4 linked regions of the Homo sapiens genome follow. The protein of the gene in region 4 interacts with the protein of the main gene of each other region in a pairwise test. Each region holds a gene or a part of one and is shown on either strand. Other genes may lie near its edges.

Evidence for each region.
Region 1: the proteins of SLC71A2 (region 4) and ORMDL1 interact in binary tests that used the Homo sapiens proteins (3 or more experiments, as listed by UniProt).
Region 2: the proteins of SLC71A2 (region 4) and BNIP3 interact in binary tests that used the Homo sapiens proteins (3 or more experiments, as listed by UniProt).
Region 3: the proteins of SLC71A2 (region 4) and GOSR2 interact in binary tests that used the Homo sapiens proteins (3 or more experiments, as listed by UniProt).

What each region holds. Positions count from the first base shown.
Region 1 is NC_000002.12:189,773,516-189,781,683, forward strand, and holds part of ORMDL1 (ORM1-like protein 1), read right to left. Parts: intron 2,202-8,168; coding exon 2,050-2,201; intron 600-2,049; coding exon of another isoform or gene 590-599; exon of another isoform or gene 334-589; intron 1-333. UniProt on the Homo sapiens protein: Plays an essential role in the homeostatic regulation of sphingolipid de novo biosynthesis by modulating the activity of the serine palmitoyltransferase (SPT) in response to ceramide levels.
Region 2 is NC_000010.11:131,971,270-131,979,437, reverse strand, and holds part of BNIP3 (BCL2/adenovirus E1B 19 kDa protein-interacting protein 3), read left to right. Parts: intron 1-5,494; coding exon 5,495-5,645; intron 5,646-6,319; coding exon 6,320-6,404; intron 6,405-7,904; exon of another isoform or gene 7,905-8,168. UniProt on the Homo sapiens protein: Apoptosis-inducing protein that can overcome BCL2 suppression. May play a role in repartitioning calcium between the two major intracellular calcium stores in association with BCL2.
Region 3 is NC_000017.11:46,932,424-46,940,591, forward strand, and holds part of GOSR2 (Golgi SNAP receptor complex member 2), read left to right. Parts: intron 1-2,605; coding exon 2,606-2,746; coding exon of another isoform or gene 2,747-2,857; exon of another isoform or gene 2,858-4,399; intron 4,400-6,175; coding exon 6,176-6,337; 3' UTR 6,338-8,131; coding exon of another isoform or gene 8,132-8,168. UniProt on the Homo sapiens protein: Involved in transport of proteins from the cis/medial-Golgi to the trans-Golgi network.
Region 4 is NC_000009.12:94,439,670-94,447,837, reverse strand, and holds part of SLC71A2 (hippocampus abundant transcript-like protein 1), read right to left. Parts: intron 6,854-8,168; coding exon 6,739-6,853; intron 2,875-6,738; coding exon 2,656-2,874; intron 1,016-2,655; coding exon 902-1,015; intron 1-901.

The sequences.
Region 1 (8,168 bases), on a different chromosome or scaffold from region 4:
GTTCAAGACCAGCCTGGTCAACATGGTGAAACCCCATCTCTACTAAAAATACAAAAAGTAGCTGGGCACGGTGGTGCACGCCTGTAGTCCCAGCTACTGGGGAGGCTGAGGCAGGAGAATCGCTTGAACCTGGGAGGCGGAGGTTGCAGTGAGCCAAGATTATGCCACTGCACTCCGGCCTGGGCAGCAGAGCAAGACTCTTGTCTCAAAAAAAAAAAAAATTCTGGAATAACATTCCATGTCACACCTACCTGACAAATAATCAAATAAGAAAATGTGAAAGCACTGAAAAGTCCTAATGCTATATAGATGGCTTTAATGCTATTTCTTCAGTTAAGTAAGCAATTTAATCAGAATATTTGAAATCATACCTGTTGGTCAAAAATACATTTTGAGAAATATGGACACTGTATACAGGTACATCTCAGTTGGCTTTTTGTGTGATAGCTGTGATTAAAACTTCTGAATGTCAGGCATTTTACATGTATTATAATGCAATCCTCAATGTTTTACAGATGAGAAAACTGAGCTTTTGAAGAAAACGGCCAAAAGTCACAGAGCTTCAAAGGGGTTGAGCCAAAATCCAAATTCAGGGCCATCTGAATAACCAATATTTTTGTTATTACATGCATGCATGCATTCATTCACTTATTTATTTAATAAATCGGGTCTTGCTCTGTTGCCCAGACTGGAGTACAGCAGTGTGACTACAGCTCACTGCAGCCTCTTAACTCCTAGGCTCAAACCATCTTCCTGCCTCAGCTTCCCATGTAGCTTACATTTATTTTTATCAGACTACACTGACACTTTTCTTTGAGGTTAATATTATATGGGACTAAATCAATTCAAAATTTCCTCAAAGGGCTATAAATTAAGGAAAAAGAACCCCATTATTTTATGATCAGTTTATTCCTTTCACTTTAAAAATGCCTTCCCTTACTTAAATATCTAAAACCTAGTCTCTCTTAAGTTCTAACATAAGGATTTCCAACACCTCCAAGAAGTCTTTTGTGCTATGCCAGGCTGCACTGACTCTATCATGGACATTATTATGTATAGGCTAGATGGTACAGAGTATTAAGATATATGAGCAATACCTCTATTATGTGTAGGCCACTGTACTTACTGTGGGATTCAAAGCAATCCATGCACTTATAAATTCTTTGGAGAGACAAAATAAAACATATATACATTTTTTTATTTGTCAATTATACCTCAGTAAAGCTGGGGAAAAAAGGAGGAGGCATTTCAGGTAGGAGATATGATTTGAACTGATTTGAACAAAGACAGAAATAGGACTACACATGAAATATTCAAGAAATGCTGCTTAGAAGGCCAGGTAGGAGTTGGGTGGGGATAAAATATTTACATCAAGGGAAAAGGAGGTAAGAACTATTTTCTGGAAGGCCCAGAACATCAGATAGGAGAAAGAAATTAGATACCAGATACAGGTTACATGCTATCCAGGTAGATTATTATCTCATTTATTTCTTACAGCATTAGGATTGAATTAGGTATCACTAGCTAGAATTTTATATATGAGCAAACCAAGCTGGCTGAGTGATATATATAGGACTCCACCCAGGTCTATCCTATAATGAAAGCCTGACCTACTTTTTTCGAAACCATACTCTTTCCCAAGGAGTCTGAATATCTTAATAGGATAGGTGGCCAGTGAAATTCTTCTCATTATCTAAATCATTGCTTAAGGAGATTAATCTGACAGTGCAATATAGAATATGATTATGTATTTTGTGTCCTTATATGAAACCTAAGGACGGGAGCTGGAATACATTTGACCTGTATATCCTAAATGTCTAGGTGCACTGATTAGCATGTAATATTGTCTCCGTATATGTACTGACTGAAGTGAAAATTAGTTTATTATCAACTTGTTAAAAATTTTGTCTATATTTTATGTTCTATCCGAGGTGCTACTTATTGATAGAAGTTTGCAACAAAATATGTTTCTAATTCCAATTCAATCTGATGAAAAGATATCTTCCTCTTATCCAATCCTCCTCATACCTAAAAATTTCTGCCACTTACAGAATTATTGGAGAAATTGTGAAAAACTTCCGTGAAGATGTAAACTGTACTCCATAGTCCAGTTGTTCCCAATGAGTTAGGAGCCTTGCTTTACCCTGGTCAGGAGTTTCGAAAGGTGTTCCTTTCACTGCATGCAAAAATACGTACATCCCCTGGAAAACAAGCAAGGGGTTATAAATGATCAATATTAAATACAAAATTAGTCTTTGTCAGTAGCATTAACGAGGTTCCAAGCTGTTTGTGAGAGTGTGTGATTTAACTGAGTTCGTTTTAAGCTTTCATATAATAGTGAAAGGCTGTAGCCAGTTTCTTTATAATAAAATAGAACTTTCTGGGGTATAAAAATATTAAGTGAGAATTGGTAAAAGGTCAACTGAAAGTAACCTGTTTGCATTTCTATTCGTTAAACTAAAAATAATTATCAGGGTAGCTTCATATCTTTACATTCAGATTTTCTTACACTTTTCCTATTAGGAAATAGGATTACTTTTTCCCCAATGTACAGGAGGTTTTTCTTCAGGGTATATTAGTAAATTTGATGATACTTAAAAAATGATAAAGACATACAAAGTGGTAGAAAACAATAAAATGATTAAAATCTATTGGGAAAAATAGTTTTGAGATATTTAATATGATGACTGCCTTTGCCTTAATAGTTCTCTTCCAAAGCAATAAAAATAGTTTGATATAATAGGTATAATGTTCCACTCAATTCCCTTTTTAAATCGCTATTGTGCCTCAATAGCATTTCTTCTGAAGTCAGTTTTAAAAACTCAAAGCAAATAACATTACTAAAAGCCATTCTGTCAGATCATATGTCTAAACATATAATTTTTTTTATCAATAGGGTAGAAAAAAACCAATCTATAGATTTGGTTTCCTTGAGATTATGATACCCATTTAGACTCATAGGCAGTGTTTCATTCAGGATCACTGCTTGAGGCACTTTATGTAAAGGGATAATGCCTAAATATTATCATGACACAAAGTTTTTCCTTCTAGACGCCACAATGTGATGTCATTTTTCCTACCTCTACTTTTAATGATTATATAGAAAAATTAGGGATTTGAAATTTTATATGATACCAACTTAACCAAGCCCTTCCTTTCAAGGCTTAGTCTACTTCCTAGTTATTCCAGTAGGCAATTCAGAAGTCGTTTAGCTACAATAACACGTAAGCTATGGAGGAAAGGACTCATGTTCAATTGGATTTAACCCATCAAACATTTAATAGGTGGCTTATATGTACAAGACATAGGACATATATGCACATATGAAATTGAATGAGATGTACCCAAGCCTTGGAAAAATTCAATCCTCCAAGAGATGATAAGGAAAAAAAATGCATAAACAGCTAGAAAGTAGGGCAGAAATTGCTATCAAAGGTACAATCAGAATACTCAGCAAATGGCAGGGGAGGGAAAGGTTCCTTGTTGCTGTGCCAAAAGTCTTGATGCTACTTCATTACCTCATTCTTAAAGGTTCAGCTCAAATAACAATTCCTTAGAAAAACCTACCTCATTAGTAATAATTAATCTCCTCTTTATGTAGTTGTATACAATTTTATTGAAAATACGATTACAGTACAATATATCATGTTAGAGTTGTTTGCATGATGTTTGTTTTCCCATTAGCCTGAATACACTCGGAATAAGCACTGGGACACCGCAAGACATTAGACATTGGACACTTCCAACATTAGAAATGTTGGAAGATGACATTACGCCAAGGAGTATTTATTCTGTAAGCTCTACGAAACCATTTTCATATGGACTTTAAAGTGAATTATAAAACAGAAAGTATATGTTTTCAAATCATCGGGGGTATAGGACCCCCAAAAAGTTAAGAACATCTATTCCAGACCACATAGATATTAGAATATAAGAGAATAATCATCCTCTCATTATTTCCTTCAAACCATATGTACTTAACTAGTGTTTAGAATATCAAAACAGTTTATTTTATACATCTTTTCAGTGAAAAATAATAAAATCTTATCTGGCCATATATCTACTGCCCCAATATTTTTTAAATTGTTTTTATGTAAAAATGTTTGTGATTATTATTCCTCCATTAAAAGAATTAGAGAACAAAAGTATGTAGCTCATGCTTAGTCCTTACTAAATACCTACTGAATCAAAATGAATCATTCATTTTTAAAGCTGGGCCAAGAATCCTGTGAAGCATTAATACCTCTAAGGGTGAGGTAGCACTTAATAAAGCAACCACTGTAGGTTTCTACTGTACGGTTCAGAAAGGCAAATATACTGTATTTTTCTAACCGGGTGTAACAATTAGGTCCATTTTCTCATTTTTAAAGGCATTCAATATGTACTTCAGATTTTTAATTGGTTTAATGTGGCTATATTCAAAGGAAACTTAAATTTGGAGTCATGTAATTGCAACTCCGATGGCTAATTAAGTTTTTAGTGTGGTGAACTAATAACAAATAAATCAGAAGTTTGCTTTTCTATACAATGTCAATTACCAATCATTTGTCCATGGTCAACCAACTTGAAACACGGTTAGGGGGTGGTGGTGGTACAGGGATGGCATCTAAACCGTGGTGGCTCACACTCAGCACTTTGGGAGGCCGAGGCGGGCAGATCACCTGAGGTTGGGAGTTCGAGACCAGCCTGACCAACATGGTGAAACCCTGTCTGTACTAAAAATACAAAAATTAGCCAGGCATGGTGGTGCACACCTGTAATCCCAGCGACTCAGGAGGCTGAGGCAGGAGAATCGCTTGAACCCAGGAGGGGGAGGTTGCAGTGAGCCAAGATCGTGCCACTGTACTCCAGCCTGGGTGACAGAGTGAAACTCCGTCTCAAAAAAAAAGGACTAACTTATTCGGCAAACATTTAAATACGTTCTTAGCGATACAAAAATTAAAACATAAAGAGATAAACTGCTAATTATAAAACAATGACAAACACATGATAAAAGAATGCAGCATGGGAGTTGTGTAGATTCCTGGAGGGACAGTTTTGCTGTAGGAAATCAGGCAGAGCAGGAAGGAGGGAGAGGTATTAAAATAGTAGAGACTGGGCCGGGCATGGTAGCTCACACCTGTAATCCCAGCATTTTGGAAGGCCAAGGCAGGTGGATCACCTGAGGTCAGGAGTTCAAGTCCAGCCCGGCCAACATGTTGAAACCCCATCTGTACTAAAAATACAAAAATTAGCCAGGTGTAGTGGCACATGCCTGTAGTCCCATCTGTTCAGGACGCTGAGGCAGGAGAATTGCTTGAACCTGGGAGGTGCAGGTTGCAGTGAGCCAAGATTGCGCCACTGCACTCCAGCCTGGATGACACAGAGAGACTCCATCTCAAAAAAAATAAAAGTAGACCCTGAGTACTATGGCTCACTCATGCTTTGGGAGGCTGAGACAGGAGGATCACTTGAGGTCAGGAGTTTGAGACTAGACTGGGTAACACAGCAAGACCCCCATCTCAATCAGTCAATCAGCTGAGCATGGTGGCACACACCTATAGTCCTAGCTACTTGGAAGGCTGAGGCAGGAAGATCACTTGAGACCAGGAGTTCGAGGCTGCAGTGAGCTATGATCATGCCACTGCACTCCAGCCTGGGTAACAGAGTGAGACCCTGTCTCTGTAAGAAAAACAAAATGGCTGGGCATGCTGGCTCATGCCTGTAATCCCAGCACTTTTGGAGGATGGTGCAGAAGGACTGCTTGAGGCCAGGAGTTCAAGACCAGCCTGGGCAACATAGTGAGAGCCTATCACTATTAAAATAAAAACAAATTAGCCGGGTGTGGTGGCATGTGCCTGCAGTCCTCAAATTTATTGGGAAGCTAAGGTGGGAGGAGCTATGATCACGCCAGTCTCTTAAAAACAAAAGAGTACTTGGTCCAGGTGAAAAGAAAATATAGTAGAAAAGCTTAAGCCAAAACAATAAAATGAGAGCAAGATGATTTTCTTTATTGCTAGTGTATAGCCTCTATTTAGAGATGGTTGAGACAAGGTGAAGTCTCCTTGTTTCTGCACTGTTATCAACTGGTCTTATATGTCACACAAGAAACTTGGATTTTACCATGACTGCAATGGATGATCACTGAATGACTTAGAGTATGACTTGAGCAAACATGCATTTTTAAAACATCACTCTGCCAAGCTGGAATGGAGAAGGGTAGAGAAGCATCAAGAAGACTATTTGATTTATCTGAGTAATTTACTTGAGGAAAAAATGAGGGTATGGGGATCAAGTTGAGAGTAAAGCAGTAGAAGACAGTGCTCTGAGCAAATGGATATGGAATATAAAGGAAAAGAAGTTATCCTAAGACTTAGGTGACCTTGTATTCTTGTTTGCATACGATGGTTCTGATTATACCTAATCTCTTGTAGTAGTTATTACCAAAGCTCCATTTTACTCTCTAAACAGCCTGTTTGGACTATACATTACAGGTTGAGTATTCCTTATCCACAATGCTTTGGAGCAGAAGTGTTTCAGATTTTGGATTGTTTTGGATTTTGGAATATCGGCATATACATAATGAGATATCTTGGGGACAGGGCCCAAGTCTAAACATGAAATTCATTTATGTTTCATATACATCATACACACACAGCCTAAAGATAATTTTATATAGTATCTTTAATAATTTTGTGCATGAAATAAAGTTTTGATTGCATTTTAATTGCAACCTGTCAGGAAGTCAGGTATGGAATTTTCCGCTTGTGGCACAACACTGGTGCTAAAAAAGTTTCTAATTTTAGAACATTTTCTATTTTGGGTTTCTGATTAGGGATGCTCAACCTGTATATTAATTGCTTTACCATTAACATTCAGCTGTCTGGCTTGGCCTTTAGATAAGATTAGTAGTGAAGCCAGAGGATCAGATTGTGGGTGGTAAGGGAGTAATCAGGAATAAGATAAGTTCCATTTATACTTGTTTGGTTTAAGGTGCAAAGTAATCTGGTGATAAAAATAAATAGGAGCATCCTTATTCTACAGGTAGAAACTGAAAATATGGGTAGATGAAGTAACCTAGGTAGAATACATAGCATAAGAAGAGATGAAGAAAAGAACCTTGGGAATAGAAATATTTAAGAGAGGAAAAGAGAAGGAAGACCCCATAAGAAGAAAGAGAAGGTCAGAAATATATGCCGGTGAAAGTGATCCTATAGAAGCCAAAGGAAGTTTCAACAAAAGTGAGATGATTAGTGTAAAATATTTCAGAGAAGTCACTATTTAAAAGAAAACATCGTTTGCTCTTACAAAGTCTATCACATAAAATGGACTAAATGGACACATATTTATCATGTCTACCAGCACATCATTCTTATCCTCCTCCAGTCAACTTCAAATATACTCCAGAAGATAGAAAATAAATATTATTGTTATTATTTGAGGCAGGGTCTCACTGTCACCCAGGCTGGAGTGCAGTGGCACGATCTTGGCTCACTGCAACCTCCACCTCCCAGGCTCAAGCGATTCTCCTACCTCAGCCTCCCGAATAGCTGGGACTATAGATGTGCTGCCACCATGCCAGGCTAAGGTTTTGTATTTTTTGTAGAGACAGAATTTCAGGCTTCACCATGTTGCCCAGGCTGGTCTTGAAATCCTGAGCTCAAGTGATCTGTCCACCTCAGCCTCCCAAAGCACTGGGATTACAGGCATGAGCCACCGTGACTGGCCAAAATAAATATTAATTTTTAAAAATCAATTTCTCCTGTTTTCCTGTCTTAATGCTTTAAGTTCATTTTAAAAAATATCTTTCAACAAATGTACTGCTAAACTGGATTCAATTAAAATCCTCAACTAACTGTATTTCCTCCTTTTCACGTTACTTTAATGGGTTATTAAAGACAAGAAAAGTCGCTGTCAAGATTTTTTGTTTTTGTAAAAGGCAATTTCCAGGGCTGCATAATATGGTCAGTACAGTCAATCAAAACTTTGATACTCTGTAGAGCTAACACAAGAGAGTAACAAGCAGCAGCTAAGGCACCATAAGATCCTGAATCACATAAGATGATTAAGTTCAAAACTTAAATACTGAAACAGTGAAGTATACTTACACTATTTAGATAGATAAGTTAACAAGGATTGAAACTAAAATGATCTATTTTCTAGATTCTATACAATGAGAAAAAAAAAAG
Region 2 (8,168 bases), on a different chromosome or scaffold from region 4:
CCGTGTTTAATAATCCAAGCCCTCACCTCTTCACCCACTGCTGTGTCTGCAACTGGCAGATGGTTCTCTCTCTTGTCAGAGGCAACTCACCATGGGCAAAGTTGTATGAGGGGAAAAGATGTTTTCTACTTATTTTGGAGTGGAGTTGTAGCATTGTGTGCTTTGAGACCTGAAGGGGTTGCAGACATCGAGATTCTCGTCCAAGACTTGCATTTCATAGATGGTCACAATGAGGTTCTAGAGGTGGAGTGAAAGATAAGGCTGGCAACAACACTTAAGGAGAAGCCAAGGTCTCTGCATGAGGCAGCAGTGGGATACCTGGAGCCCAGATGCCTGAGGCTGCGTGCAATAGGCCCTGGAGGGTCCTGGAGGAGAGGAGGCCAGAGGTCCTGGAGGCAACAGGAAGGTGGAGGGAAACGAGCCCCGTTGGAAGCCAGGGACCTGATTTACCTACCCAGCTGACTTGATACTTGAAATCTTTTGTCAGGCGGGTCTCTTTTGTTCTCTCCCCACTAACCTGAGAAGCTTTAAAGGTAAAACAGCAATTTCTTAGAGCCCACCTCCCCTGGGGAAGAAGCCCTTTGTATGGTTTTGGGGTGCTAGTTCCCTCGGGGGTTCACAGCTCCTCTGCTTCAGGTTTTTTTTCTGGGATGCTGCCTCCCTCTGTTCTGACATTTATCCCAGAGCTTTTTCAATCTATTTGCCTGGATTCCACCCCAGCATCCCAAATAGTCACTTTCAGAGTGGGCTGAGGCTAGGCTTTTGGAGAACAATGAAAAAACACCACAGGTGATTCTCCCTTCATAGCCAGAGTTGAGGTTGTCACCCCAGGTTAGGGCATAGGGTGGCCTTGAGAACTTGGCCCTGTGTTTACTCCACGTGGGGCTCGTGGCTGTGGCCCATGAATCCATGTTGAGGAATGGGACCCAGGGAGTTGCCCTGGGACATACAGAGGGCAGTGAATCGAAGGGATTCCCTGGAGTCTGTCACTGGAGGGAGAACTGCTTTGGGCACCTAGAAAAGCTGGATGTCAGATGATTTTTTTTTTTTTTTTTTACACAAAGTGAGAATAAGAAATGGATTAAGAACTCTTGTTGGACTGTATTTTGTCTCTGAGGCAGACCTATCAGTTTTCTTTTTGTACTGTGATATAAATATTTATAGTCTAGGCTTTTCAAAATCTCATCTACCTTGATATAGGAGGGAGGTAAGATTTACTGGCTGTGTGTCTTGTTAGCAATGTAAATTATAAGTGAGTGAGGAGGGGGAGGAACATGAGAGGGACGCGAAATGAGATTAGGAAGGAGGGCTTTTCTTGCAGCAGCAACAGCAGCACCTTTCCGTCTGGGGCCTAATTATACTACAGTGATTTGAAGTGTAAACTGCTTGTGATTATGAGCAAGTTTTCTAAGGTTATTAAGCAACCTTACTGTAAGCCCATCTTTCTTTGAAAAGGTGAACGATCCGAGTGGAGAACTGTAACACGTGAGTAGATACACAGCACGCTCCATTCTCCAGGAAGTGCCTTCCTTTCCTACGCGGTTGCTGTGGGTTAATAATAAAACTCCTGTCCCTTAGTAAATCATTCCTGGGAATACAGCTTTTGGGCCCAAAGTCATTAGCCATGGACAATCTGGAGTGAGTTTTTTTTCCTTGTTTCCTGGATTTTTAGGTCCTTTCTGGGGTGATGTTTAAAAAGCACTGCTTTGGTTCGAATGTGTTCCTCCATGTTGCCAGTGGGATGGTAGTAAAAGGTGGGCCTTTAAGAGGTGGCTCGGCCATAGGGGCTCCTCTCTAGTGAATGGGATTAGTGCTCTAAGGGGCTGGATGGAGGGAGGTGGGTCCCTCTGTAGCCTCATTGAAGGGATGAGGCAGGAAGGCCCTCAGCCGACACCAGATGTTGGTGCGTGGATCTTGGACTTCCCAGCCTCCAGAACAGAGATCAGTTTCTGTTCGTAAATCACTAAGTCTGTGGGATTCTGTTGCAGTAGCGCAGAGGATGACAGAGATACACTTGTCTCTCCTTCATCTTCCTCTCCCTGTTGTCTTCAGCCTGCCCCTTGTGTGATAGATTACAGTATGTGTTTGGTCTTGACCCTACCTACTTCCTGGTGCAGAGCACCTAAACCCCTGGGGCTTCCTGAGCAGTGTCTTTTTTTTTTGTTTGAGACACAGAGTTTCGCTATTGTTGCCCAGGCTGGGGGGCAGTGGCATGATCTCGGCTCACTGCAACCTCCCCCTCTCAGGTTCAAGGGATTCTTCTGCCTCAGCTTCCCGAGTAGCTGGGATTACAGGCGCCCACCACGCCCAGCTAATTTTGTATTTTTAGTAGAGACGGGGTTTCACCATGTTGGTCAGGCTGGTCTCTGACTCCTGACCTCAGATGATCTGCCCGCCTCGGCCTCCCAAAGTGCTGGGATTACAGGCATGAACCGCTGTGCCAATAAGTGTCTTAAGCATGTTTATTAAAGAAAGTAAAACAGTAAAAAGATGGTGACTCCATAGGCAGAACAACCTGACCAGTGTGTGCGTTATTCATAAAGTCACCCTATTAGCAGTGTACTCCAAAAGTGCTCCTTGGTTAACCATTTTTGGTGTAAGTTGTAAGGAGCCCCTTCAGAATACACTGCTAATACAGTGGCTCAAGGGTGGCCCCAGGATAGTTACTTGAGGTAGAAATTCCCAGGGCAGCCCCTCCTAGGAGGGGAGGGGACTGGAGATGGAGATGGGGGAGCCATGAGGTGCGGGTAGCATGGTTGGGGTTAGGGTTGGGACATGTGGGGTAAGTGGGAGTCTGGTTGCAGAGAGTGTGGTTGGGGTTAGGGTTGGGACGTGTGGGGTAGGTGGGGATCTGGGCTGTATGTCATTTCCATTTGTCTGCCCTGGAATTGTTTCTGGTAAACTGATAAATGTAAGTAAAGAGTTTTTCTGAGTTCTGTGAATTGTAGTAAATTACTGAACCTGAGGCAGGTGTGTGGGATCCCCTGAGTAGGTAGAGGCACTGGCAGAAATACGGGTAACCTGGACACCCCATTCTCTGCTTGCATCTGTGGGAACAGTCTTGTGGGCTCCACACTAAGTCTAGGTAGATAGAATGGAATTGAATCGTTGGACACCCCGGTGGTGGTGACTTGGTGTCCCACATTTGATGTTAAGAGTGGCATCAGAGAAGAGACACCACACCTTCAAGTTGCATTTGTGTTCCATATCGTCAGATAGCTGAACAACACTTTAGTCAAGTAAATTGAAGCAGGCCCAGAATCTGAATACTGTAGATTCAGCGGAGAAAGACAGCTGGCCAAAACAGAGGCTGTGGTGCCGTTCTCTCAGGGGCAGGCCATGGCTAGCCGGCCGCATGGCATCTTGAACCGCAGAGAGGGAAGGAGGGCTAGTGAACATCAGAGTACTTGGCAATACTGTCTGGTCAGATGAGCGGCTTCAGGAATGGTGTGGTCTGTACATCTCAGAAGGCACCATGTAGCCTCTGCCAGAGTGTGGGGCAGACTGGCCTGGGCCTTTCTCCTCCATTGAGCTCCAGGCTCCGAGACAGACCCTGGCTTGCCTTTGTATTAGGGATGTGCTTCGTGTAGGCCAGGACATGAGGCAACGTGAGAGGCCAAAGAGAACAATCATGCGTTCATTTGAAAATTTGTGTGATCATTTCGTTAGCAGCTTACTGGGAGACTGTTGATGGCATAAGTTGCAAATCCACTTTTCCTTCCTGGGCCTTCGGTTTGCTTTTTTCTGGTTAATATGAAATAGACTCTGCAACAAGTGGCGTATGGAGCCTAGGCCAGCCCTCTTTCAGGAGAGATGCCTCGTGTGTGTGGAAAGCTGTGCACCTGCCTTTGCTTCCAGCGAACATGACGGATGAAGAGGCTGCTCCTTTCCCCCTAATTGCATGGTGTTATTAGTGCTGTGTTGGTTTAAGGACAGTCAGCAGCTCAGGGTGATTATTCTGCTTACTAAAATTATAGTGACTGCAAAAATGAGATAATTCCATTGTTCTCGTCCATAAGTTTCCCTGTCTTTTGTGGCCTGCACTTTCCTCCCACTGCACTCCATCCTCCATACGCTACCAGAGGAAGCTCCTACCAGATTTGCTTTAAATAAATAAACCTATGACACAAAGTAGAGAGATTATCTGGGGCCCAGAAATAGACGTGTGCCTATATGCACGCTTGATTTCTGACACAGGAAGCAGCCAGCGCAGAGTGAGGCGGGAGCTGTCTGCAGTAAATGGGGCATCCGTCTCACATCAATGGGAAAATTAATCCATGTAGATTTTGGATCTAAATGTGACTGTCATAACAGTAGAGCTGTGTGAAAATAATAGAATAGAATATCTCAGCTCAGGAAGGGATTGCTGCATTTGACTGAATTAAAATCAAGAACTTCTGTACATCAGAAGACATCAGAAGTGAAAAGAACAAGCTACCGAGGGAAAGTTACTTGCAACATATTTAAATGCAGAAAAACATATATCTAGAATACAGAATTATCCCAGAATTGCACTTTTAGCAGTAAGGGAACGGGAGCAGCGTTCCAGCCTCAGTTTCTATTTATAATGGTGACATGGAAAAAATACTGCTGGATGCCCACAAATAAGAGAAAGACAGATAATAGAAAAGAATAAGAGATTCGAAGAACCAGTTCAAAAAAGATGCTATCCAGATGGCTAGCAAACTTGTAAAACCGTCTTCAACCTCGTTAGAAATTATATAAATGCAAAGTAAGCCACACGATGCAAGTCATAGAGGCTGGGCATGGTGGCTCACGCCTGTAATCCCAGCACACTGGGAAGCTGAGGTGAGAGGACTGCTTGGGCCCAGAAGTTCGAGACTAGCCTGGGCAATATAGCGAGACCCCATCTCCTAAAAAAAATAGCCAGGAGTAGTGGTGCATGCCTGTAGTTCCAGTTATTCCGGAGGTGTCAGCTAGAGGATGGCCTGAACCCAGGAGTTTGAGATTATAGTGAGCCTTCATCGTGCCACTGCACCCCAGCCTGGGTGACAAAGCGAGACTCCGTCTCGAAAAGAAACAAAAAATAGAGCTTAAACCTTTTAAAGAAAACTTCAAATCCCTTAAGCTTATGTTGACATTAGTGTTGTTGTTGTTTTTTTTAAAGACCTCTTTTTCCAAATAATAGCCTTTTTCTTATAAAAGCTCACTGCAAGGAAGTATTCTAATTGGATTCTGTTGACTCAGCAGAGTTATTGGACATTGGCTTGGTATAAAGGGACTGCAAGAGCTGGACAGATACATGGTCTCAGCCCCAGGGGGCTTCCTTCCTGTACCCAGGGAGTGTGTGCGTGGACAGTCACTGCCATGAGAGTGGGCAGAGGGATGTCTTCAAGTCGGGGTTGAGGGATGGTTCCTGGTGTGGCACCATTGCTACCTCTTGGAAATGGAAGGGCAGGCTGGTTAGATATCAAGAGCAGATTCCAGAGTGGGTAGAGAATTCCATCTGCGCCCCTTTTTTTGTCCCCATCAGGCTCCTGGGTAGAACTGCACTTCAGCAATAATGGGAACGGGGGCAGCGTTCCAGCCTCGGTTTCTATTTATAATGGAGACATGGAAAAAATACTGCTGGACGCACAGCATGAGTCTGGACGGAGTAGCTCCAAGAGCTCTCACTGTGACAGGTAGGCGCGCATCAACAAGTGTATGTGTTACAGTGCCGATGTCTTCAGTGGGTGACAGTCACAGCTGGAAGTGCCCGTGTCACCTCTAGGACAGTGGGCTGCTGTTCGCCTCGGGCCGCGTTCTGGACTGGCTCCTGCTGCAGTCCGTCCTTATATAGGAGCCTCGCCCTCTTTGGGGATGCAGTGACCTGGGACTTAGTCTGTGGGGAGCCATGTTCAAGTCATCAGTAGGCAGCGGAACAGCCACAAACCCCACTCTGAGAAACGCACTCACGCGCCTCAGCGGGGCTGTGGTCGCAGGAGGAGCGGTCCCTGGTTAGCAGTACTTCTGAGTGACTCCAAGGTAGAGTGGCCGACAGTGGTCAAAGGTCGCGTGCCCTTGAGAGCTGTGCAACAGACCCAGACCGTGAAGGCGGCAGGTGACAAAGCCAGCTGCTTGCCAGTTGCCCCTGCGTCTTCTCTGGAAGACTGGCTAGCTCACTCCTGTCGTGCTCAGCCAAAAGGGCTGAGGAAGAGTTTGGCTCTGGCAGGTGCTGGGTGGAAGGGAAGACGCGTACGCTGACTGGCTAGAGCCCCTCATCACGGAGGCGGTTCACTGCCTTTGGGGTTTGAGCTTCTAATGATAGAATGTTCACATGATGTTCTGTTTTTCCCATTCTATTCACATCGCCAAGCCCACCTCGCTCGCAGACACCACAAGATACCAACAGAGCTTCTGAAACAGATACCCATAGCATTGGAGAGAAAAACAGCTCACAGGTAAGCTGGAAGGAGAATGTGCAGTTGTAAAAGTATTTGTGATCTGTTTGTACAGGAAACGGTTTTAAATGTAATTGAGCACCTCAGAGAAAAGTCGGGCTTTAAGGGTGTTTCCTGCTTTAAAAAAAACAAAAAAGCGAAACAAAAAAACCAAGAAACTGTGGGTGGGAACATCCACAAGCACATGGGCTGGACACTCAGCTGAGCGGGGGAGGCGCCGAGTGGGACAGGCAGCGGGGGCCTCCTGTCCCTCCCTGCCTGCCATCAGGGATACACCGGAAAGGAGGAAGGGCTCCCTGGTGGCTGCAGCCTAGAGAGGAGGGAGGGACCATTGGAAGGGGTGGCAGTGAGCCAGCTACTGGCTGGTCTTTCCTCGTGGTTGCTGGTTGGACAGTGAGTGGGTTTTAATATTTGCATGCTGTGTGGGACTCAGGAGTTACCCACGGGGCCATCTAAGGCCATGTGGCCACTGTGGCTGTGACTCTGAGGTGTCTTCCTCATTAGACACTCACTACCTGCCGGAAATTACACCCTGTGCCTTTCCTAGCATTAGTCCTGAGCTAACTGGTGCCGGAGCAGTGTAGCATTAGCGGCTGATCAGCCTGATAATTTAGTGTAAGATCACTTTTTCTTCTTTTTTAAAAAAGTTTTTTTTGTAGAGACGGGGTCTCCCTGTGTTGCCCAGGGTGGTCTTGAACTCCAGGGCTCAAGTGATCCTCCCAAAATACTGGGACTATAGGTGTGAGATACTGTGTCCAGCCTAAGATGACTTTTCTGTTAACAGCTATTGAATGGGCTTTACAGAGCGGCCTTCAGCATTGTTGTGAAAGCGGAGTGAGTCTTAGAGGAAAAAGTGTACCTGGGGTTATTGCCTTGGTGTACTATCGTTCTCCCTTCCTACTCCGGCACAGATAGGGTTCGAGGCAGTGATCAGTACTGTCTTGCTCAGTTATATCTGGCAGTGCCTTACCTTGCTGCAGATGAGATGCGCGATGTGTTTTCTTGGGTGTTCGTTGCTGGTGAGAACTTTGACGACGGACTGTGTTCTGTATTTTGGAAGCTCTGTGAGGAAGCATGGCCTTCCAGGCAGGGTTAGTAGCTGACCCTTCCGTGCTAGCGCTTCCCTCAAGGCTTTCTTCACCAAGGAAACAAGGAGTCCCTGTTACCCAGGCTTTCTCAGGGACATCCCCTGGCCCCACTCCGAGGGGCAGCATGATTTCGGGAGCCCCAGGAGCCCTGGCTGTGGGTGTGTGGGTGCATCCAGGGCGTGCGGCCTGCTCCTGGGCACTTGGGGCTGTACCCAGCTTGGGTGTACCCAGATGTTTGGTGGGTTTGGGGAGCTATATTCTTGAGTATTTTCAATTTTATTTCTTTTTTTTTGAGACAGGGTCTTGCCGTTTTCACTGTTTTACACAAAACTTCCCCTAGTTTTAAAAGGAATTAGATGTTCAGGTACAGAATTTTGAAAATGCAAAAAAGTAGAGAAAAACACTTAGACTCTCAGATTTAAAATCCTCTTTAATGTTTCGTGCTGTTATATAATTCTGAGGATTTGGCCGCAGCTGTGGTTATGTGGACATTTCTGCCTTTTCCCTCCTGCTTATCCCGGAAGCATCTTGTAAACCTGCTCACTATACAGTGTCCCTTCCTTCGTCATGTCCCTGTTTTGAGCCGTTTTCGGCTGTTTTCATTTTCTTTTCTTATAACCAGTGCTGCCGTCACCATCTTTGCCCTCATGTCACGTGACTTCCCTAGGACAGTGTT
Region 3 (8,168 bases), on a different chromosome or scaffold from region 4:
GGGAATAGGCAGAGGTGAAAATTACCTGGTTGGGCTGGTCTGAGACAGAAAGGTGGAAGTTCACATGGTGGAAACGTTTTTCTGATCAGATAGAGACAGATGATTAGAACTTAGGCCATTTGTAGAGAAGGCAGCATTTCAAAGCTGCCTGCGGGCAGTTGCCATTGTGCCGAGTATGTGTGTGGCTCCAGTGTCAGGTGCATTAAGATGTTTTTGCCCCTAGTCTGAGCAGCAATTTGGAGGAATTTGTTAACAGATGTTTAGGGTTAGATGGACTGCTTGCCTGAGTCTGTCTGAAAGTGTGTTGGTTTGCATGTTTGATTTTTCAGAACCCATTGTCCCTGCCCTTTAGTCTTAACCAGATCATTTCCTGCACATGGCTGTAGAACATACTGGCCTTTTCTGTGTCCTGCATAATATATTCCACTAAATGAAGTGTGCTTTGGCTTTTTGTATTTTGTTTTTTTACAGAGGATTATTTTCTAAAGAGATGTTAGCTTTCTAAGCCAGTTGTTAAAATTCACATCATTTCCTGCTTTGTAGATGTTTAACCCTCAATGCTGCATCCTTGCTTTGCAATAAATTTTCCCAAGTGTTTCAGGCTGTGCCAACATAGTTTTTGCTTCCCCAGACTAAGCAGTCAAGTTACAGTGTTTAACAGTTCAAAAATTTAATGAACTATAAGACACACTAAAAGATGTTTGGATTTTAGATCGTTATAATGTAGTATTCAGGCCTTTTTTAGGCCAAGGATGATCGCTTGGGATTATTTTGTTTTTTGCCAGCCTGGCGTGATGCTGTGCACACCGTCAGTTCTTAATAAACATTGACTTGCCAGATGAAACTTCTTCCTGGTCATTCTACCATATGGAGCTATAATACATTTTTCTGAGAGATAATGGCCCATCAGCCATACTGTTTTAGATGGGAGGGTAAGAAAGATTTGTATGTGAATGGCATTTCATAAGTGCTAGTCAAATTACTGAAGAGAAGTCTCTGAGTCTTTCAAACGCCAGCATCTTCTGACACACTGGGCATTAGCTGCATGCAGAAAACTAGTTAATTCAGGCACTAGGAGTAAAGCACATGATGAAATTAAAAGACCTGACGCCTATCTGTGAGGAGCTCCCCTGTTAGCAGGGGCAGTTGAAAACACGTATGTGCAAAATGATTCCAAATCTGAGCAGCAAAGAAACAGTGGCATAACCTTTTTTTTTTTTTTGGACAATTGAAACTGGAATTTAGGTGGTAAAAACAGCACTAGTGGAGCAGGGCACAATGACACACGCCTGTGATCCCAGCACTTTGGGAGACCAAGGCAGTGGATTGTTCAGGAGTTCACCATCCTGGGTGACATGGTGAGACATTGTCTCTACAAAAAAATATAAAAATTAGCCGGGCGTGGTGGCGTGAGCCTGTGGTCCCAACTACTCTCTGGAGCCTGAGGTGAGAAGATCACTTAAGCCTGGTAGGTCAAGGCTGCTCTCTATCCTGGGTGACAGAGTGAGAGCCTGTCTCAAAAAAAAAAAAAACACGAAACAAACCCCAGCACTACTTGGCAGGAGAGCTTGTGATTGGCAGAAAAGAGAAGGGAACGCTCTCACAGCTGGCGAGGACTTGGCTCCTGCCTATAGTCCACTTTCAGAGCAAAAGTAGAGCCACCAGGATGGGCGTTGGTGTTTCCCTCTACAGTGTGGGTAACAGGGCAGGCCCTGCGCTCAGTACCCACATTCCCAGCTCCACTGGACTTCCAGCTCTGTGATCACTGGACACACTTCCAGCTGTGTGATCTTGGACAAGTTATTCTACCTCTCTGGGCATTTTTTCATCTATAAAATGGGGAGGCCTGTGGACAGATTCCTTGAGCACAGGAGTTGGAGACCAGCCTGAGCAACATGGTGAAACCCTGTCTCTACCAAAAATACAAAAAAGAGAAAGAAAGAAAGAAAAAAGCTGGGCATGGTAGCATGCACCTATGGTCCCAGCTACTCAGAAGGCTGAGGTGGGAGAATTGTTTGAGTCCAGGAGGCTAAGGTTGCAGTGAGCTGAGATCGCGCCACTGCACTCCACCCTGGGTGACAGAGGGAAACCCTGTCTCAAAAAAAAAGAAAATGCAGAAGCACAGCCTCCTCTATCCTTAGTTAACTCTCAGTCTACTTGGAGAGGTAAACTATAGATAAAATAGCTAAAGGACACGAGCAAACATTTAACACTGCATTAAGGGGAAGCCATGGAAAGGAACATTTGGAACCAGCTAGGTTAGTGAGTAGTCAGAGAAAGCCTTTAGGAGACACCCAATGAGGTCTTGAAGGAATAGCTTTTCCTAAGAGGAGATCATGATACAGAGACAAGTATCGTTGGAATGAACGATACTTGTGGAGTGGAACTCATTTGGAGAGTGACAGATCTGAGGAAGTTCCTCTTCTGTGTGGACAGAGGCCACCCCAGGCCTTTGCTTTGCTTTTTCTTATCCATTAGGGTCCGCTGATTCTTTCACCAGCCCCTCCGGCTGTTCTGGCTTGGCCTTGGCCAAAAGACAGAGCAGTGAGACCCCAGGAACTGACTGATAAGCAAAGTTAATCAAGTGCCTGTGTTTCTTTCACAGGACTCTGACACCACCATACCAATGGACGAATCACTGCAGTTTAACTCCTCCCTCCAGAAAGTTCACAACGGCATGGATGACCTCATTTTAGATGGGCACAATATTTTAGATGGACTGAGGACCCAGAGACTGACCTTGAAGGTGGGGTCCCTGCTGGGGGACAGAGAGAAGGCCTCTTGTTTTAGCCTCATCCAACAGTTTAGTAACTGTGTTTATATTTTGATTACGTGTCCTCAAATTGTGATATTTTGATGACAAGACAGAGCCCTTGAGTTTGGGATCCTTTCTGTTGGAGTTGAGTTATTGTGAGCCTGAAAGTACCCAGTTCCTTTGCCAGTGCTTGAAACAAACCATGAAGTGGCCTCTCTTAGGATCCAGGTCTTTTCCCATTTACTGAACTTATCATGAAAGTGAGTGCTACTACGAGGGGTCCAATCACAGGCTGAGAAATTGTGTTACAGAATCTACTCTTGGAAGAATGAAGACGTGGCTGTCCTTTGGTACCTCGCTTTAAGGTGGCTTTCCCTTAGGACCCCTACTGTGGACTGCCTTATAACTAAAACCTTTTGTATTTTAGTAACTGAATCCCCACTGTGCAGTGTTAGGGCTGCCTGGTTGTTTGCAGTAGATTAGAGCTTTAGAAGCTTCTAGAGCTTCTAAAGCCCGTGCTGGTGATCCCAGCGACTCTTCACTCCCTAGCCTTAGGTATTCCTAGAAGCCCTGACCAGTTGGCACTGCTGAGACTCCAGCCCCTGGGAGTGGTTTACAGAAACATTACACAGACTCTGATGTCAGTCATGATGTTTCAGCCTCTGCCCTTTTCCTGTATCAACCCTGATGGATAATAGGGCGTGGGTTCTGTCTGTTATCAGGGTGTGGTCCCCTGTGAATGAAGCACTCCCAGCCACTGAGCTGTGAGAAACAGTCACTCGGAAGTGTGAGCTTTATCTTAGTTTTTGTTGGATCATGTTGAGTCTGTCAGCTCCACAGGACTTCAGTACGTTTCTGAACAGTCCCTGCCATCTCTACGGGGGAGAGGGTCAGGCAAGCTGCAAGTGACACTCACCTCCTGCTGACAGTTGCAGTGTCTCAGATGGCCTGGAAGGGTGGTCTCCAGCAGCCTGCTGGGCGCTCCCCTTTCATGAGAGCCACCTGCAGTGACCTGAACTGATACATGTTGATTAGTCTGCCCTTTCTTTAGAAAACTGCTACTCTCCTTTTCATATCTCAGAAAAACAGTAGAGGCCTTTTAGGACCAAACTCCATGTCACACTGATGAAGAGCCAGTGGGGGTTAGAGCGTCCTGTTAAGGCACATGCTAACTTCCCACTCAAGTCTGGCAGCGCTGGGGCATCAGCACACCTCTTGCCACCCACACTGATACCAGAGGGGAAGGCTGTGAGGTGGCTGGGGGTTGAGACTTGAGGTTTCTAACTTTCCTCTGCACACCTGTGGCTACCTGGTGTTTGTCTCTTGATTCCCTCCACCTGCCTCACACCCTGCCTCCGTCGGGATTTTCCACCTACACCATTCAAAAGGAACATAGGAGAGGGCATGAAGGGGCTAGGCTGAAGCACTCTGATGACTGGGGCCAATTTGTGGCTGAAAATGAATACATTTTTTGAAATTTATGGTCATTTTCAAGTGATTTAGAAGGTTGATCCTTAGCCTCATACAGTGATGAAATAATCTGTGTGTTCAGAGCCAAGCAGGACTTTAGCAAGAGTCTGATTGTATTGTCACTATCTCGGGGAAAAAAAAATACAAATACATTTCTCTGATCTCTGATGGCAATGAAGTTTGACTTGTAATTTCTCTGGCTGAGGCTTCTTAATTGCTTTCTGGGCAGAATGTAGATTTTGGATTCCTGTCCATGATGCCTAATGTTGATCTCACTTTCCTTGTTTCTCTCAGTTGCTCATTAATGTGTATTTATTAAAAAAAAAAAAAAAGGATATGGGGCATGAGGTTAGATGCCATGCATATAAGTTGCAGTGGGTGATATGTGCTGAGTGACTTGGGGTCTGCCCCGGCATTCACTTATACTTGTTTCTTACTAAGAAATTGAATGTGCTTTAAGCTGAAAATTAGAAAGCAGTAGGGAAGGACAGGCTGGATGGTTTGGGTTGTTGGTTTAGGAATAAAATGCCCTTTTGTTTTGGTGGTGGGTGATGCCATCTATAGAAGGGTTTTAGGTCATTGTGTTGGTGTCTTTCCGTCTTTCCCACTTGAGACCCTCTTGTAAATATGGACTTGACCCACCCATTGTACTCAGAAGAAACCTCAAAGATTGTACTCTACAAAGTAAATAGGTTGGTATCAATGATTATTGGAACTAGAGAGCCGAGGACAAGTTTTTTGATGTTGCCTTCTTTTTATAGTATAAAATATTCTAATTTTAAGTATTTTTGTTGAGATATAATTTACAGACAGTAAGGTATACAGATCATATTTTTACAATTCAGTGAATTTGGGCAATTGTATCAGCCTTTGTAACTCACACTCCCATCAAGGCCCGGACCATTTCACCTCTGAAAGATCCCTCGTACCCCTTCCCAGTCAGTTGACCCCTCTGCCCCAGGCAGCCACTGTTGTGATTTATTTCACCATAGATGAGGTTTTCTTGTTATTGAACTTCATATAAAGGTATTCATGCTACTCTTTTCTATGTGGCTTCTTCCTCCCAGTATGTTTCCAAGGTTCATTCATATTGTTACCTATTTAATTCCATGTTGGTAGTCAGGTACTTTTTATTGCAAAGCAGTATTCCATTGGTACAGGTTTACCATAGTTTGTTCATTCATCTTGTGATTAGTGACACCATTGTTTTCAGTATGTATTTATTTATGTATTTTTTGAGACAGGGCCTCCTTCTGCCACCCAGGCTGGAGTGCAGTGGTGTGATCTTGGCTTACTGCAGCCTCGAACTCCTGGGCTCAAGTGGTTCTGTCACCTTAGCCTCGCAAGTAGCTAGAACCACAGGTGCACACCACCACACCTGGCTAATTTTTTTTTGTAGAGAAGGGGTCTTCACTACGTGCCCAGGCTGATCTCGAAATCCTGGCCTCAAGTAATCCTCCCACCCACCCCTCCCAGAGTGCTGGGATTACAGGGATGAGTCCCTGCGCCTGGCCTGTTTGCAGTTTTTAGATATTCTCCTGTGTTTTTTTCTAGAAGCTTTAATTGTGGCTTTAGCTTTTATGTTTAATTCTATGAACCATCTCAAATTAATTTTTATGTATAATGTGAATTGAGGTTCAATTTTTACACACATATCTGTAAGAGAGATACATATATATAAAATACATACCTGTGATATTATATAGTCAGTCGTTCCAGCACCATTTGTGGAAAAGACTTTTCTTTCCACTTAGCGTTGCTCTGGTACCTTGATCAAAAATCAGTCGACGACATGAGAGTGGCTCTATTTCTGGCTGATATTGCTTTCTGTGTATTCTGGGCATGACCAAGAGAATGTCTGTTGGCAAAGCTCCATCTCCTGATGCCATTCACCCACTCTTGGTAAAGCGACTTGATGTTTGTTTTTTTTTCTGTTCTCTTCTGCCCCAGGGGACTCAGAAGAAGATCCTTGACATTGCCAACATGCTGGGCTTGTCCAACACAGTGATGCGGCTCATCGAGAAGCGGGCTTTCCAGGACAAGTACTTTATGATAGGTGGGATGCTGCTGACCTGTGTGGTCATGTTCCTCGTGGTGCAGTACCTGACATGAGCCAGCCACGCTCAGTGGCTGAACAGCATTCCCACAGCCTGCAAGTGTGTGTGTGTGTGAAAGAGAGAGGGGGGCCCAGAGGCCGCCTTTTGAAATGTTTGCCTGTCTGAACTGTGAAGACACTTGGGAGTGATTGTGGTCTAATTTCCAACCTGCTCTGTTTTCTGTGACATCTTGGAGGGGGAGCTAGTGCCACCACCATGCGCGGTGCTTAGGAAATGAAAGAAGTCCCGGGTCTGTCTCTCTCACTCTCGCTCTCACTGGGGGAGGGAAAGAATGGCTTTGGTGGCTTTGTTCACATAGCTGATGCGTGCCCTGGGAAGGTGTCCACAGTGAGCCCTGTGTGCAGGACTGTCCACACGGTTCACACCTTGTCACCATCAGGCCTTTCTGGCTCCTGATAGGGTGGAGCAAAAGTGGAAAGGAAAGGAAAGAGGCCTTTTCTCACAGCCATTATATTAAATAGTAGGTCGATTCACATCCTCGTGCTCCTGGCCACCCTCCCCTGTGCCTCAGTGACATGTAGATGACTGACTGCCAATACTTGTCACCATTCCCTGGAAGCAGCTACCTAGGGGAAACAAGATGTAGTGCTATTGCCGATAACAAGTAAGATTTTCCACACTACAGCTGGGTGTTTCTCTTTTCTAAAGTGAGGCCAGTGTTATTTCCCGGGAGTGTTCAGTCTTGACCCTAGTCACTGATTTTTTCTAGTTGTTAATAGAGTGGTTGGCTTTTAAGGTTCAGAGACTGTGGCTTGGCACCTGCGCCCAGGCTTTGTGGGCCTTTGCCCCTTAGAAAGTAGCTGTAGGCAAAGATTTGTGATTTTCCAATTACAGTCTCAGCTCTAGTTTTAGTATCTCTAATTCTTTGGTTCCCTTCTCTTCCCTGAAATATATTAGCACCTGCCAGCCAGGCCCTCATTTTGCCCAGCCAGTGTGGGCAGATCCCACCGTGGAGACATCTGTAGTGTGTATGTCCTTGTAACACTCTGTTTTCAGGGACTACAACCTTTTTCCTTCTGTGACCAGCCCCGGATTCAGGCTGTACTAATACCAGGTATATTGTGGAATTTAGTATAAAGGCCAATCTGTCCTGAAGTCCATCTAATGTGGTGAATCACTGAAAGTCTCAGAAAGACCTGGTTAGTGTATGTTCTCATTTACCACAGGCCTACCAGCCCTGGGCACAGCAGCTTCATGGCAAGACATAAAATGACACTCAAAATCCTTCAGATCTGGAAACCGGCTCAGTATTAACCCTACCTTTGGTTGTCCTGCCCTACCTGCTCTGTTAGTTTCTTGTTGCTTGAACTGTCTTCTGTCTTATTTCCCTTCCTTTCTGTGTTCCTCTTCACCTCTCTTGTTCCCCTCCCCGCTGCTCTGTAGTCATGTTGGTCCTTTCAGGCACCTCTGTGGCATAGCTCCCCTTTGGTAAGTTTTCTTAATTGTCATAGATTAACTGAGTTTCCTGGATGCTAATTTCACACTTTCGGTTGGAGGAGATCTCCATTGTTCCTACCCCTCCGGGCCAAATGGGCCCCAGGTTTCCAAGGAAGGAGCAATCTGTGACTCCTAAAATGGGTTGGGGCCCTGCCAGAGTTAAAGCAGTGACTGGAGGGTGGACTGGGGGGTTGCAGCATCTTTAGACCTAGATCTGTCTAACTCTGGGGAGGCACATTGACATTTCCATTACACACAGCACTGCTGCGGTGCCAGGGACCTAGCGCAGGACTTTTGGTAATCCATAAAATGGATTCTGAGACTGCGACGGCAAGGCTGTCCTGTCCCCCAGGCACCCAAGGATCCTGCCAGACAGCACACTTTGGAGG
Region 4 (8,168 bases):
GGAGAGATAAACAGGCATAGCATAAGGGATTTTTGCAGTGAAAATTCACTGTGTGATACTGTAAGGGTTGATACATGTTATCATGTCATCATACGTTTGTCCAAACCCATAGAATGTACAACACTAAGCATGAACCCTAATGTAAACTGTGGACTTTATGTTAAGATAATTTGTCAATGTAGGTTCATCAGTTGTAAAAATTTCCCACCCTCGTGGGAGATGTTGATAGTGGAGGAGGCTATGCATGTATGGGGATAGGGGATATATGGGAAATCTCTATATCTTACTCTCAATTTTGCTGTGAACCTAAAACTGTTCTAGAAAAATAGTCTATTTAAAAAAAAAAAAAAAAAAAACAGGCTGGGCACAGTGGCTCACGCCTGTAATCCCAGCATTTTGGGAGACCGAGGCGGGTGGATCACTTGAGGTCAGGAGTTCGAGACCAACCTGGCCAACACGGTGAAACCCTGTCTCTACTAAAAATACAAAAATTGGCTGGGCATGGTAGTGCACGCCTGTAATCCCAGCTACTCGGGAGGCTGAGACAGGAGAATCGCTTGAACTCAGAAGGTAGAGGTTGCAGTGAGCCAAGATCGTGCCATTGCACTCCAGCCTGGTGGACAAGAGCAAAACTCCGTCTCAAAAAAAAAAAAAGATAAATTATGTTTCTGCTAATTCTGGTTAATTCTCAAGAAAAAAAAATTTCCACAGTAATTATCTTACTATAAATCATTGCATTAAAGGTGCCCTGTTTACTAATTATATGCCAGCACCTACATTTGTAACTAGAAGCAAGTTCACATGTTTTTTCCTCTGCAGTGGTTTCCTCAAAATATCTTTAGACAAATCTCCATCTTTGATTTTCCTGGTATTGAAAGGCTACTAGCCACTCACTACTCACCTGCCTGAGATAGAGAAAAAAACTTGAATACTGTCCAGCTTCAGGAAGGTATGAAAGAAACACGGTGATGCAGATTAGTAAGACAGTAGAATCTTTTCCAACTTTCTTCAACGACTGAGAATAAGCAGAAAGAACACACTTAAAATGCCAATACACATTAATGTTGCCAATGTTCTGGGACATCAGCTTCATTATTTTGATCTATTAAGATGAATAACAAAAGTCAAATGGTTAATAAAAGGAAGTTCTATCACCATCTTTCTGAGGAAGTTACAAGTCTTAATTTCAGAGGTATATATTTCAAATCATATAGCTAAAAAAAAAAGCAAAAAAATAAACCCACAAAACACACTTACTCATCTTTGTTAACACACTGATTAAAATCCCTGAACAGATCCCGAACTTCCTATAAACAGAACCTGGAAATATATTCCTACAGAACCTTTTAAGAAAATCACTTCTCTCAATTCATAATGTAACTTCTTTAAAGCCATATTCAGTACAGAGCGTTTCCGTATAGGTAAATTCACTCTATTCTTCAAAGTGTTCATGTTCAACTTTTATATCTGGTAGACAAATAAGTACGCTCCAGCCATAAGGTCAAACTGGTAAGAACTTGTTGAATGTTACAACCTTGTTGAAAAATCCTTCTTACATACATTGGATTGTTGAATAGAACAAAATGGTAAGTTAATACCAAAGGAGTGGAAAGTGCTACAGAGCTTCTAGCTCATCAGACCATAGCTTTTATGTAATTAATAAGCAAAAGCAGCTAATGTTGTTGAGACTTTGCTGGGCAACAGACACTAGGCTAGTTAATTTACACACATTAACAGTAATCCCCACGATTGCCCGGAAAAGTAAGCCACAGTAGCTCTACTTCACAGAGGAGCTTTGATGCATAACTTGATCACTACAAAGGAAGGTGGGAAGCCTAACTGGCTGGCTCCCAACCCCACTACTGGCTTCCTTCTCTAAATATTTCTTTTGGTGTCTGACATTGTGACAATAATAGAACAGGCAGGATCCCTAGGTCATGCCCTCAGGGGGTATTTTAGAAAAAGTAATTTCTGATTGATTACATGAATTTTTCTGAAAGGTAAACTTGGGGGACGAAAAGCAGAAACCAAACTGCTGGTTCTTTTTTTGTCTACAAACTTTTTTTTTCCCCAAGAACAATTTCAAACCAGGTAGGGTAGAGAGAAGGTGAGAGATAAGATATGTTTTCCAGTGACACACCACCTTCCCATGCCAAAAAAGAAGGGGGTGGAAAAGGAGAGGAAAGGGAGGGAGGTAGAGAGGGAGAGAGAGACATATTATAGAAAACAATACTCAATCTGTAACAAACAAATTAAACGTCTCTGGTCAAAATTAAAATAACTCATTCAAACCAAAGGCATTTATCCTTTTTGAGTTAAAATGAGTGAAAATGACCACTTCAAATGACCACTTTCACTTATTTTGTTTAAAAAGGATGAAAACAACCATGCAAAAAGAAACTCTCTTCCCAAACTCTCACCAAGAATTAACTAGACATTTTCTCTCTCTTCGTTTATGACATGCTTAAGTACCAATTCTATATATTTCTTAATACAAAGACTAACTCAATCCCTTACTTGCAATTAATTTTTTCTATTTTTACTAAAGAAATAAGTCAACAACTGCTAGGATCCTTGAGGCTGCACATACATACTTTCATTTGCTTGGCTTAGAAAGACATTTAGGAAAGTAAATATTTCCATATTTTTATTTACCGCAAAAGGGTCTGCTTGTTTCCAAGAAATCTGAGCTCCCCAGGAAACCGGTCTCATTTTCTCAGGCAGAGATTCTGGAACAGCCACTAAGATGAAGCAGATGTCCAGAAGAGCCACCACTGTGGCCACCAGCACAACGAGGCTGTCTCCGTAACTGGCAGAAAGATATGCTCCAATGGCCGGGCTGCTGACAAGACTAGCCGCAAAGGTGGCTGAGACCTGTGGGAAAGCACACTCTCACCCAGGGTCCCATAGGTGAACACCTCTGGGGAAAGCATATCCTTACCCAGGTCTGCCTGCTGCAGGTGCACACCTTCAGGAAAGCACACTCAACCAGGGTCCCACAGGTGCATACCTGCAGCCATGCTTCCCTGGCTTTAAGTAAGACAAAAGAAATGTGTTGCATATAAATTTTAAGAATGAAAGAGAATTAAAGTGATTTAAGAATGTGTTCATAAACTATTAACTGGAGATACCCTGCAGAGCTACAAGAGTAAAAAAGGATTATCTTATTACAAACAAAAATTGTAAAAACCTTCCCCACAAATAAAACATTAGCTCTTTGGTCTTCTTTAACTGGGGACCGGGGATGTGAGATGGTATGAAAAGAATTCCTGCAGGGCTGATGATAAAACTTACAAACTACTCAAGTACTGTGCTTGATTTAATCTTCTAAAAACACTGCACTGTTTGAACATTTTATCATTTGGTGGTCATTTCATTAGCACTGCCTGGGGTCAGGGGGAACCCTCTGCTATTCTTAGAAAAAAACTATTAACAACAACAAAGAATTTGTTGAGGTGGAAGTTGAAGCTTTTTGACTAGACAGCTGTAGATTTCTGTCTCTCTGTCACCACCTGACCCTATCCAGTATAGAGACCACAGAGCCAGCTAAGCACACCCACAACCTGAAGCCACCTTGAGCCCCTTCACAGTGCACTCCTATAAGCATGTGGAATGTCCACTTTATTTTAGAACACAATCTGGATGGTCAGATGCTTATCGGGCAAACTCCAAATTATAACCACACTAAATGTCAAATGCATATCTATAAGTTAGCTTTTTAAACTTCTAATGGATTTTATTAAAAATCCCAAAATTTCTGGCAATAAAAAATTCTTTTTCATCCATCATCTCCCAACTGAATTAAAAAACACAGTATATCTGAAATTAGTATTATACTAAAAGTACTATAAAAGCTAAAACTCAAGTATTTTTGGAGGGGAAAAAAGAATGTGGAAAATTCCAATGTGGGGAATAGGAATCCTTTGTTCAATATTTACTGAGAATCTACTATGTACCAGATGAAGAAGACAAAGCTCTTGCCCTCAGGTTTTCCCACTTTATTCAAGAATATCAGGGCAACCAAATAACTGCATTATAAACTGCAACGACAAGCAAACAGTTATGGGAACATTCCTACACTCTTCTCAGGTGTTAAGGGGGCACTGCTGCAGCATCTTCAGGTGTTAAAGGGTCTATGGCCTCATGAAACTCTATGCAAAATGTGTCTATCTTAAAGCCTAAAGTAGCCTACTTGCTTAGTCTGTGTTTTTATCTAAACTCCTCTTTCACTTAACATTCAATACAACTCTGATGAATAAATCTAAAGAATGACTTCCCCACAACAAACTCTTAGTAAGTGTTAACTCACTTATTAACATGACTAATCATTGCCGTAGCCCTGAAAGAATTACCACTTTCTTGGTTTACTGAAGAAGTCTGAGTAAGGAAGGTGTACACATTTTTATACTGTTCTTTAATGGGTCTCAAAATGCTCCTTAGAACTTGACTGACACGTTCTGTAATTAATTGGCAATAAATTCTCCTATATCTAGAAGATAGGTAGACTGCAATCCAGGCAGCCTTGCATGCTGAGTTGCTTCTGCTGGCTGGGAGCACACTTCAGCTAAGTGCCGTCTCAGTCTGGATGTGTGCGCTCACTGATTGCTCTCAATGCCCCTGTGAGTAGATATTAACCCTAACTGCCATTATACAATGAGGAGCTGAGCTGGAGAGGGTAATTAAGTCACAGGCGCTTCTGGTTAGAACTCTCTTAAATCTTTCCTGAAAGCACTACTGCTCAGCACAACAGCTGTGTGAAGGGTTTCCCAGCTGAAAGCGAGAAACAAAAATCAAATATTGCAGAAAAATGAGTATCTCAACAGGTATTTCCCATGCTGTAGAAGAAAGCTGTCCCTCACTACTCTGTTGGCCAAGCCTTATGGGCACAACTTGAACAACCTACCTTCTTGTTTTTGTTTTTTCTTTTCTTTTTTTTGGCAGGGCGGGGGGAGGTTGTTAATTTTTGGAGTTTTGGGGGACATTTTTTTTTTTGAGGCGGGTCTGACCGTCGCCAGCCTGGAGTGTAGTGGCGCGATCTTGGCTCACTGCAACCTCTGCCTCCTGGGTTCAAGCAATTCTCCTGCCTCAGCCTCCCAGGTAGCTGAGATTACAAGCGCACACCACCACGCTCGGCTAATTTTTGTATTTTAGTAGAGACGGGGTTTCACCATGTTGGCCAGGATGGTCTCGATTTCTTGACCTCATGATCCGCCCCCACCTCAGCCTCTCAAAGTGCTGAGATTACAGGCGTGAGCCACCGCACCCGGCCTATTTTTGTTTTTGGTGTTCCTGAGTGAGCTCCAAATCTTGTCTTCTTCGAAGCTTTCCTATCAGCTTCTATCTTTGTCCTCCTCCATCACGACTCTGAAGATGCCCCTTTTTAGGGCATGACATGAGAGGGACATTCAGGAGTGGAGGGAAGAAGCAAGGAGAGAGAGAGAGGGAAGGTAGAAGAGTCAGAGGGAAGTGGGGTTGAAAGAGTAGTTTTCAAACTACTGATGTCTAAAGTCAACAAGTTAAAAATTGTTGTGTTTTGTGGAATAGTAGTAACCCATTTATATGCCCATCATTGATTCAGGAAGTTATTCATTCAGTCAGCAATGAATGAGAACTTACTCTACTCCAGGAAGTAGATTTAAAAGACCCAGGAAAAGGAGATAAATAACCTAAGTTTCTGGCATTCAATCTCCCTCCAACCTATTCCCCACAACCTAGCCAGATCATCTTTCTTCTTCCACTTTCTTATTCTGAATATTTTCAAATACAGAGGAAGACGGGAGAAGGGTACCAAGCATACTTCCATGTCTCACAGGTTCAGGCATGGAACACACATGCCCACACATGCACATCCACATGCTATGCTATCTTTTCCCCTGAAACATCTGAAAGTAACTGGCAGAGTCCTGACACTGATGTAAAACGCTTCAGCTATCTTCTAACAAGTCTTTCTTCTACATAATCATAATGCCATTATCATGCCTGAGAAAATCAGAAACACTGTCAGGTTTTAATTATCAGAAAAAAAGGTCTCCTATAACTTTTGTTATTCAGCAACTATGGATTTGATGAATGAGTGAATGTAGTCCTTTTCTACATACCATGTTCCAAATGTATGTCCAAAACACACAACCACTAATAGAGTTAACAATGGATTAACATTGCTGAGGTTCAGCACCTCTCCAAATTAGGTGCACAAAGAGCTTGTGCAACTTGACTGCTTAACGCTCCTCCGGGGATCAGATAACAAGAAACAAATCAAACTAATTTTTTAAAAAATTCAAATGTTCAATTGTAATCCCCAATGTTGAAGGTGGGGCCTGGTGGGAGGTGATTGGATCATGGGGGTAGTTTCTCATGAATGGCTTAGCACCACCTTCCTTGGTTGTTAATAGTAAGTGAGTTCTTGTGAGATCTGGCCGTTTAAAAGTGTGTAGCACCTCCCCCTTCACTCTCTCTTCCTCCTGCTCCAGTCATGTGAAGATGCCTGCTCTGGCTCTGCCTTCCATCATCATGAGTAAAAGCTCCCTGAGGCCTCCCCAGAAGCAGAAGCCTCTATGCCTCCTTTATAGCCTGCAGAACTGTGAGACAATTAAACCTCTTTTCTTTATAAATTACCCAGTCTCAGATATTTCTTTACAGCAGTGCAAGAAAGGACTAATAAACTCACTTTCCAGTAAATTTCTAATACAATGTTAATTACTATTCTGGTTAAAAAATATATATAGTCTATTATCTTACCCATCCATAAGCTGTACTTCGCTCGTGCTCCTGAGTGACATCAGCTACATAGGCAAATATAACAGAAAACGTGACCGAGAAGACTCCAGACACAGAAATCATCGCAAAATACCACCTATAAAAAGATTATTTTAATGACCCAAGGGAAAGGGAGTGTATGTTCACTTTCATTACCTGAGCCAAAGACATCATGTAAAGATTACGCACCAAGAAATAAGTATACTTGTATATGTATGTATACTTAAATATATCAAAAAAAATTTAAGTTAAGACAGGAAGAAGTAGAAACATTCTAATTTCATCATTGTTCAAAGGGGGTCAGTACATGCCCCCTAAAAAAACAAAAGAAGAGGAAAAACAAAGAATAAGGGGATTAGGTAAAAGTTATATTTTTAAAGGTAGCCAACAGACAGAAAAAAAACTTCTCAAATATCCTAGCTGTAAGTAAGGAAAAGACATACAACAAATGATTTGAAAAGATCTACATAAAAGCAGAAGTCATAATGAAAAATATTAGTGTACTTAAGACTAAAAATTTATATCATGTGATAGATGCTTTTTTTAAAAACCCAGTTTAAAATTAACAAAGAAAAACCTTATAGAACAAAAAGTGGGGTTTACTCCAGGATAGAAAAATATTTTAATATTTAAAAATCTATTAATATAATTATTCATTTTAGTAGCTCTAAAGAGAAAAGGTGGGCGGATCACGAGGTCAGGAGATTGAGACCATCCTGGCTAACATGGTGAAACCCTGTCTCTACTAAAAATGCAAAAACTTAGCCGGGCGTGGTGGTGGGCGCCTGTAGTCCCAGCTACTCAGGAGGCTGAGGCAGGAGAATGGTGTGAACCCGGGAGGCGGAGCTTGCAGTGAGCCAAGATCGCGCCACTGCACTCCAGCCTGGGCGACAGAGAGAGACTCCGTCTCAAAAAAAAAAATAAGAGAAAAGGCAAATAATATCCATTAATGCTATAAAGTCATCAAATAAAATCTGACATGTACTCTTAATGTTTTTTAAAAATCTGTGGATACAATAGGAATATTTTTCAGTCTAAAAACCAGCTTAACACCTAATGATGAAACATTACAATACTCCCTTTATATATATGAAGAAAATAAGCCCAAAATCTTCACTTTGATTTACTAATATTCATTAGTCAAAGCAATTAGCAAAAGCAGTGAGCAGTATGAAAACTGGAAGGAAAAAGAAAAAATTATTTACAGATGACATTAATATACCTAGAAAACCAAGCAATTAGAAGAGCTCATGTTGTAGCAGAACAAAAAGGATAAAATTTATAGGAACAAAACTTAAGAAATGTATAAGATCTAAAGAAAAAATATTAAGCCAAAAAAAGGACATTAAAAAGTCCCAACTCATTGGAAAAGCATGACATCTTGGACATAAAGACTCAATACCAAAAAATTC